Linked DNA regions of Homo sapiens: region 1 is linked to region 2. The links come from fine-mapping of genetic effects on gene expression. A gene starts in region 2. The other region holds a variant in brackets. All regions are shown on one strand. Distances are between the middles of the regions. Region 1 overlaps ATP6V1C2 (ATPase H+ transporting V1 subunit C2). Region 2 holds the start of PDIA6 (protein disulfide isomerase family A member 6).

The links. PIP is the estimated chance that this variant, and not a neighbour inherited with it, causes the effect.
Region 1: its variant is the best candidate, but not a certain one, in a credible set for the expression of PDIA6 in whole blood (TOPMed, PIP 0.84).

The regions. Positions count from the first base shown.
Region 1 is chr2:10,773,644-10,777,643 of GRCh38, reverse strand. ATP6V1C2 (ATPase H+ transporting V1 subunit C2) reads right to left here. Exons shown (of 14, transcript NM_001039362.2): 9 at 2,764-2,856; 10 at 2,573-2,666; 11 at 1-59. Among named protein-coding and RNA genes, the nearest start is that of PDIA6, 37 kb to the left of the region's middle. The variant GT/T (reference allele first, on the strand shown) is at 1,971.
Region 2 is chr2:10,810,868-10,815,375 of GRCh38, reverse strand. It overlaps PDIA6 (protein disulfide isomerase family A member 6), which reads left to right and starts at 2,591. Exons shown (of 13, transcript NM_005742.4): 1 at 2,591-2,698. The coding sequence starts at 2,680. RefSeq lists a silencer at 2,289-3,038 and an enhancer at 3,529-3,588.

The DNA.
Region 1 (4,000 bases), 37 kb after region 2:
TTAACCTTGTGGTCCGGGAAGGTGGATGATCCCTTTTTAAGAGCAACACAGGAAGTTTGCTAAAGGCACAGAAATGATTTATTAATCTTTCAGCAAACATGCATCACAAACAAATAAATCATTCTCATCGCCTGAAAGGCACGCGAGAGCAAGCTCAGGAATTCAGGCCCACCCTCGGGACTCGCGTGCTGGCTAGACTAGAGATGTGGTAGGTGCCCACCGGGCTCCTGGAGTGGTGAAGGCAGAGAGAAGGGCAGTGTTAAGGTCTTTGGGTTCCATATTCCAAGCACAGAGCCGATCTCTGGCAGAGGGGTCAGCCCTGAGCTCCCTCCCCTTGCTTGGGCTCAGCCAGGACCCCCATCGCAGGCCGACCAGGACAGCACCGGGAGGCGTTAGTGGAAACGGCTCTCTGCGCTCTGTCAAGGTGGCTCCACCATGCCCAGCCACAGATGCCTTCCTGGCATTCGGGGGGCACCTCGGCATGCAGAGTGCAGGAGATGAGTTGGGCATGCAGTTAGGACACTCACCCTTTCCCATTCTGTCTCTGCAAACAGGTGGGAAACACAGGGACATCCCACTCTGCTCTCAAAGTACACTCAAACCCCAGGGCCTGGTCTGTCCCTCTGGTTGATGAGTGACAAAAAGGATGCAAGACGTTTGGTCATGCACTTCTAGATAGGCCAGAGGGGGCCAGATTCTCAGGAGGCCAGTGGGACTACCCAAGCTGAGAGTGCCTCCACCTCCCGCCCACAGAGAGACCCTGGCAGGGCCCCCAGGGTGGTGTGGGCGAAGGCTACGCCATGTAAAATACGCCAGCTGGCAACCTGAGCCCCACGTGGCAGGCGGCAGGCTCCTGTGTGTCACCCTGTTCCCCGGGGGTCTGGCAGGCCTGGGCCAGTGCCCAGGTGGGTGCCAAAGGCCCTGCTTCGCCACCTGTCCCCCAGCAGGGCCTCCCTGGTGTGGAGGCTGCCACGGTCTAGCCCCGTCCAGAGATACTGCGCAGGGGGTTGGGACCAGGACTGAATCGAGCTGGGAAAAAGCCTGGCTGAAGAGAACAGCCAGGGCGTGCCCAGGTAGCGAGGGTTTCAGGTGAGCTGAGCCTAAGGAAGAAAACACTTTGGAGCTCAGCTTTCACTGGGGAAAATCTTTCCTGCCTGGTGTCTGGGTCTGTGGGCCCTGCTCTGAAGACTGGAGCATCCAAAGGGCTGGGGGTCCCCAGCTCCAGCTCGGCTCCTCGTCCTCAGGAGGCGACACCCTCCCCGCAGGCTCAGCCGGAGCCCAGCAGCGTCTGGCTCTGAGGTGTGTCTCACTTGCTGTGCACACACAGGTCCACACACACACTCATACATGCACGTGCGCGCGCACACACACACACACGTGTGTGAGCGCCCTGTGCTATTTCGGAGGAGGAGGGTGAAAAACCCCCTATATAAACTTGTATATTATCAGCTGTTGTTTCCTCCCTAAAGGGAAACAGACCAGACCAGAGGGGCTCCGAGAACCCCACTACGGGGGCTCCGTGGCTGGGCTCGCTTGTGACGGGGTGGCTGCTCATCCCCAGTCCCTGCAAAAAGGTCGCTGACAGACAGGCCAGGTCCCCAGGAGCCCGGAGCACACACTTGGCAGCACGGACACTGGGAGCACTCCCAGCCTGCCCGCGGCCACGGCGCTCCTCCCCATGGGAGTCCTCACAGTGCTGTGTTCACACAGTGACTTTCCCCCAAAGGCCTCAAGAACTTTCTACTCATTCCTCCTGCCCTGTCACTAGAGGCTGGACTGGAAGGTGCTCACGGAACCCTCCCTGGTGGGCATGAGGAAGAAGGGTCCCAAAAACATTCCACCCAGACAGGCTCCTTCCAAGTTGCCCAGCCTAGCCCAGCATCGCAGCAGGAGAACCTGAGTATGGAAGGTGCCCACTTCCCGGAGCGGTGGAGGGACCTTCCCAAAGCTCTCCTGCTCACAATTCAAAC[GT/T]GAGCATCTAGTTTTGCTCCCTGGTGAGCTACGCTGTCCTCCTCCGTGAAGGGTTTCTGAGTGGCTGTGGTCGGAAGTCTCCAGATAAGCACCCTCTCCGCACTAAGGACACGGGAGGTAAATACAGGGGCTAGTGGCGCCCTGGAAACCTCACGGCTGCAATCTCCAAGGCCCAGCACTGCCCACCCTGCACACAGATGCTCCCGCCTGGAGCCCACGTGCCTTGCTCAGTCCAAGGAAGGCCTGGCAGGGTCCTCTGGCCAGCTTGCCTCTCAGAGCCTCAGTTTCTCCATACTGTGGAGCTAGCAACCCCTTCCTGGCAGGGCGGTGCTCAGGACCAGTGAGAACACATGTGGAAAGCGCCAGCTTGGGTGGGCCCCCGGCTCCCGCCCCCAGCTCCACCGCCTGGGCTCCTTTGTGCTCACCGCCCCTCCCCCCAGACCCTGCTCAGGCGTCCCATGAGAACAGACGGTCCCCATGGTGTGAGCCCAGGAGCCTGGGGACAATGAGAGGGAGGAGGGAGAGCTGGAGACCTGGGAGGACTCTTCTATCCCCAGGCCTCCGGGTAGGGGCGGGAGGAGCTGCTCAATCACATACTCACATACTGTTGCTTCTTATCAGACAGCAATCTGGCCATCTCCTCCCTTTCCCTTTCAATTTCCTTCTCATCATAGTAAAATTCACGAACAGTGAACCTTAAAACAAGCAAATCATGGGTTTTCACTCAGAAGCTTTCCAGAGGGGCAGAGACCCCCCGCAGCGGGAGATGAACCAAACCTGGAGGACCCTTACTTGTTTTCTTTGGCCTTGGTTTTGAAATCTTCAATCACTTTTCGAAACAGAGTCACAGTGAAAAGGCCCCCTTCCTTGTCCTCAGTAATGAGTCTGTTGGAGAGAAGCATCTGTTGGCTGGACTCACTGCTAGGCCTTGTGCGGGAGTGGGGCTCAGAGGCCCCGGGCCTGGTGGCCTGCACCTGGGGTCCATGGCAGCAGCTGAGGGCTGGGGAACCAAGGACACTCCCTGAGATTTCCTAACTCCTGGCTGCCTGCCCTTCCCTCCTGCCCCTTCCACACCCCTCCAGGCTAAGGCCTCAGGGGGCCTCGGGGTGCAGGGAGTGTAGGGGCCTGGGCTTTAGCTCCCGCTTATCAAATTCCTGAGAGACCAAGCCCTCCTGGGCCTCCGTCACCACAGCTGGCACAGGGTGTCCCTGGCTCTGACGTGCTGCCTGATAGTAAAGCAGAGTGGTGGAAACTATCCTACAAGGTCCATTTCACTTCCAATATCACAAAGTCCTAATGGGACACAGCCTCCCAAGCAAGTCTCAACACAGGACCACTGGGGCCACTGTCTCTAGCAACTCAGGAATTCTTGGGGCCAGGAGTCTAAGCATCTCTGAGTCCTATTGGCCAGAAGACTGGAAGTGGGAGCCCTCAGGCCCAGACACGATCTCACAGCATGCTGGCATGCTGGCAGGGTCACCCTTCCTGTTTCTCAGAGCCCATGCCCATAGGGGCTGCCGCCAGACTCCAGGTATTTCCAGAGTCATCTGTGCAGGCTTTCAGGTGGCCTGTGACAATGAAGGGCCTGAGGCTCTGGTCTGGGAGGCCAGGCCACCTACCAAGGCAGCCGGCCCTGTCAAGGATCCCCGGCTCTTGGCCTTTAAGAGCAGTGAATGCTCCTGCCAGCACACTGGCTTCAAGGGCCAGCTCCTCTGCTCCAGAGCCTTGCTCCTCTTCCCTGCCTCCCCTGTAACCTCGGGCTGTGATTGTCCTGTTCCTTGCACCCTTCAATTTAGATCCCGATTGCCATCTCGTAGCCCTGGGAGATCCCCGTCCCCCAGCAGGGGCCCCAGGGCAGAGGCCTTGCACCGGGAGTTCTGTGTGTGGGGAGTCAGATGAACAGGCTGGCTGCCTGACGCGCATTCTAAAACCTCTTCAAATTACAAACCTTCTCGGCCATACAAAAAGGTACAGAGGAAAATGAGTACCAAGCTGGGTGTGGTGGCTCACACGTGTAATCCTAGCACTT
Region 2 (4,508 bases):
TGTCAGAGCATGAGGAATACCGCAGTGTAACGTGCCTCTCTGTTGGCTGTGTGCTCCCTGGGGCCAGTGACTGTGCCTGAGACAGTTGCTCGTATAATTAGGTTGTTAATGTGCATTTGGTTTTAATGAAAAAAGAAATGAGCAACACGCCCTGGTGCATTTCCGGAAGCCTGTGCATTTCCAGAAGGCTGTGCATTTCCAGAAGCCTGTGCATTTCCGGAGGCCTGTGCATTTCCAGAAGCCTGTGCATTTCCAGAAGCCTGTGCATTTCCAGAAGCCTGTGCATTTCCCGAAGCCTGTGCCTGTACAGTGGGCTTCACAGGGGTGTGTGCCTCGTGCAGCTGCGCATTCAGCCCACGGTCCAGAGCAGCCAGTGACCTGGGATATTTAGCAGGGAGTTATGATCTGGCCTCTGTTTTCTCCACGAGGATCAGCCCTGAGGCCAACTGGGACAGAGACCACACAGCACACAAAGGGCACTGGCAGTGTGGGCCACCGCAGTTCGAGGGTTCTGTTCCAAGCAGGATTGCTACCCAAACACAGCAGGCCTGGAGAGGCTGCGATCAACTCACAACCCTGAGAAAACAAACTCGATCGTGAGTGCGTTGTGGAAGCTGTGATGTCTGTGGCCCATGGGGACAAAGTTAACTGTCTTAATGTAAAGACAAATGAAGGGGCCCTCTTCTGGTAAGAGAATTAAATTCCTCCATCCAGGGAGGAAAAGCATGACTTTCCAGGCTGAGAGGAAAAGGAAGGACTTCGCTGTAATCCAGTCAGCAACAGCAGCAAATTTAAGGGGGGAAATGTGTCAAATGCAGGAAAGGGGTCAGAAAAACAAACAGCATTCATTGCCCCTCAGGCGCCCTTCAGGGAAAGCAGACAGGCCTGGAGGAACAGGCTCGCAGTCCACTGCCCTTTGCTGTGAATCCCAAACAGCCCTGCGATCACCGGTTGGGCTTCCCACGCACCTTCACATTCAGGAGGAGCTGCCCGGGGTACCAAGCTGAGGATTTCTGTCCCGGGACAAGCAGCCTCCCTGGGGAAAATCAATGCTGGCATGTGGCTTCCAGGAGAGGCCCCCGTGACTTCAGAGGGCTGCTGTGCCTCTGAGTTCAGTTTGCCTGAAAAATCTTCCAAACGCAGCTCTAGTGCCACTTCCTCCAGGAAGCCCACCAGCCGGCCCCCACCACTCCTGGACCCCTGCCTAAGAATACTTATGCCTTACACACTACAATATGGAGAAATTACTAATACAAAAACAAAATGTCCGAGTCCACTCCAAACATAGGAGGGAGAATCAAGGCGGAAAGATACAGTGGTCTTAACTTGTGCTTGAAAGATTTTACTTTTAGGTCGGGCGTGGTGGCTCACAACTGTAATCCTAGCATTTTGGGAGGCCGAAGCAGGCGGATCACCTGAGGTCGGGAGTTCGAGACCAGCCTGGCCAATATGGAGAAACCCTGTCTCTGCTAAAAATACAAAAATTAGCCGGGCGTGGTGACATGCACCTGTCATCCCAGCTTCTCGGGAAGCTGAGGCAAGAGAAACCCTGTCTCTGCTAAAAATACAAAAATTAGCCGGGCGTGGTGACATGCACCTGTCATCCCAGCTTCTCGGGAAGCTGAGGCAAGAGAATCGCTTGAACCCGGGAGGCAGAGGTTGCAGTGAGCCAAGACCCCGCCTTTGCACTCCAGCCTGGGCAACAAGGGCAAAACTCCATCTCAAAAAAAAGCAAAAAAATTTTTACTTTTGCCGGGCGTGGTGGCCCATGCCTGTGATCCCAGCACTTTGGGAGGCCGAGGCAGGAGGCTCACTGCAGCCCAGGAGTTCAAGGCTGCAGTGAACTGTATCATGCCACTGCTCGCCAGCCTGCCCCACAAACATATTTTTTTTCACTTTTGCATATTTTACAAAGCACACACCCACGTGAGCGCATTGCCAGCCCCCTCGCCCCCCAGGACAAAGTGGAGACCCTGTCAGCGAGGAGGCTACCGCTTAAGTCCCTGGGGTTCTCCAGAGAAGGAGGAGAAGGCTCTGCAGAGCCATGCGCCCTGGACGGAAGAACTTTCAAAAGTAATTCAACAAAATAGAAACTTGTCGAATTACATTGCAGACAGCGCGTGCGGAGCAAATGTGTGTCCACGGAATATTCGTCGGGCACAAGAGGAATTCCCTGTCAGCTCCCAGGACCGTGGGTGCCCTGAGGCCGAGTCACGCTCCCCCGGGATAAAGAGGGTGGGGGCGCACACAGGCAAGGAGGAGGCGGGGTGGGGGGGTGCAGAATAAGGAACTAAGGTAAAAACGCCCAGTACTGGACTCCCCTCCGAGCAGCACCCCGAGAGGGCCCGGAGGAGCTGAGGCGGTGCGAGCCGAGACTGCCAGCCCCGCCCCCAGCAGGCCCCGCCTTCCGCTGCTCGCCACCGCCCCCGTGAAAAAAAACCAAACCGGTAACCTCTACCCGGCCGCCTCCCATTGGATATGTGAGTGAGCGATGTCCGCCCGGACCAATGAGCCGCAGCCACGGCTTGGCGAGCGCCTTCCGGCCCGCCCCCGCGCGGCCGCCCCTCGGACCACCGGACTGGCCTGGGGCGGGACGTGGGCGCGGGGGCGCGGCGTGCGGCACGCTGCAGGGCTGAAGCGGCGGCGGCGGTGGGGACTGCACGTAGCCCGGCGCTCGGCATGGCTCTCCTGGTGCTCGGTAGGTGCGGGCCAGCGGAGGGAGGCGGGCGAGCTGGGGTCGGCCTGAAAGGTTTCGAATCTCTAGGCCGTTCCCCGGCGGGCCGCGGCCGCAGGCGGCCGGAAGTGGGCCTGGCGGGCGGGAGGCGCGGGCCTCGGCGTCCGGAGGAGCTGCTAGGTTGCCCCGGCGGAGGTGCGGGTGCGCGGGAGACTCGGGCGCCCGTGGGGAGGGGCTTCCGCAGCCGCGGGGGGCGGGAGCCTCGTGCGCTGGAGCCGGGCGCGGGGTCCAGGGCCGGGCGGGAGAGCCGCGGAGCCCAGCCCCGGCCGGATCCCGGGGAGGGGGTCTGTATTCCCGGAGAGTCGCAGGGGAGCTTGTTCCGGGCTCTTCTCGAACTCGTGCGTGGGGACGGAGGTTGGCGGGCGTCCTGCACTGCTGCTTGTTTCTGCCACCTGCTTTATGCAGCTCCTACTTTTAAAAACTGAAATGTTAAGCCGGGCGCGGTGGCTCACACCTGTAATCCCAGCACTTTGGAAGGCCGAAGCGGGTGGATCATCTGAGGTCAGGAGTTCGAGACCAGCCTGACCAACATGGCGAAACCCCGTCTCTACTAAAAATACAAAATTAGTCGGGCGTGGTGTCGCGCGCCAGTGATCCCAGCTACTCAGAAGGCTGAGGCAGGAGAATCTCCTGAACCCCCAGGAGGCGGAGGTTGCAGTGAGCCGAGATCGCGCCACTCCAGCCTGGGCAACAAGAGTGAAACTCTGTCTCAGAAACGAAAAACTGAAATGTTAAATCTCAGTCCTGAAATAAGGACCCATAGTTCCCTTAGAAAGGGACAGTGCCTTCCAAAAGCTGGGCTTAAGACGCAGGGGCGCTTCGCATGTGATCGGACTCCTTAAAAACGAAATGGAACGCGGCGTCTTAGGAATTCTGTAAATGTCTGCTTCTTAGTGGGCGAGGCCGAGGGTCCTGTCCTTGCCGGGCTCGCCTTGGTCACAGCCTTGGCTCTGACAGTCCTTAACCTCGGCTCTGGCCTCAGACCACCTTCCCCCTATTTACTGGCTCTGTGACTTGGAGCAAGTTACTTAACCACTCTGTGCCAGTGCCTTTTCAACGGTGTTCACCATTTTAGGGACTGATAATAGTACTCCCTTAGGGTTGTCCTGAGGATTAATGAGTTAGTACATGTCTTTCTGTTTTTTGAGACACGGTCTTGCTCTGTCTCCTAGGCTGGAGTGCAGGGTTTCCATCATAGTTCACTGCAGCCTGGAACTCCTGGTCTCAAGGGATCCAGGCACATGCCACCACACCTGGCTAATTTTTAAATTTTTTGTAGAGTCAGGGTCTCATTGTATTGCTCAGGTTGGTCTCAAACTCCTGGCCTCGAGTGATCCTCCTTCCTCAACCTCCCAAAATCCTGGGATTACAAGTGTCAGTCACCTGGCCCAGCTAGTACATGTTTTAAAGAGATGTAAATATTTGCCATATTACTGTGGAGAGAGTAGATGAGGGGAAAAGAGTTTAGTCTGTTTAGTTTCCTGTGAGTGAATTCAGACTAGACCCTGAAAGAGTCCGTGAGTCTATTAATTAACTCATTTTAATAAATGGCAGCCTTTCTGGGAAACCTCATGGTTTCTAGATGACTGCTCTGGGACTGTAGACTCCTCCTAGCAGATGTGGGACAGAGATGTTACTGATGTGAATTTATAGCATCCTTAACTGCCATGGAGGAATGGAAAACCACAGATGGCAGAGCCATCTGCTCACAGAGATTCTAGACACTCACTCGGATGGTCCAATTTCCCATTGGTGTTCATTATCACTGAGTGGA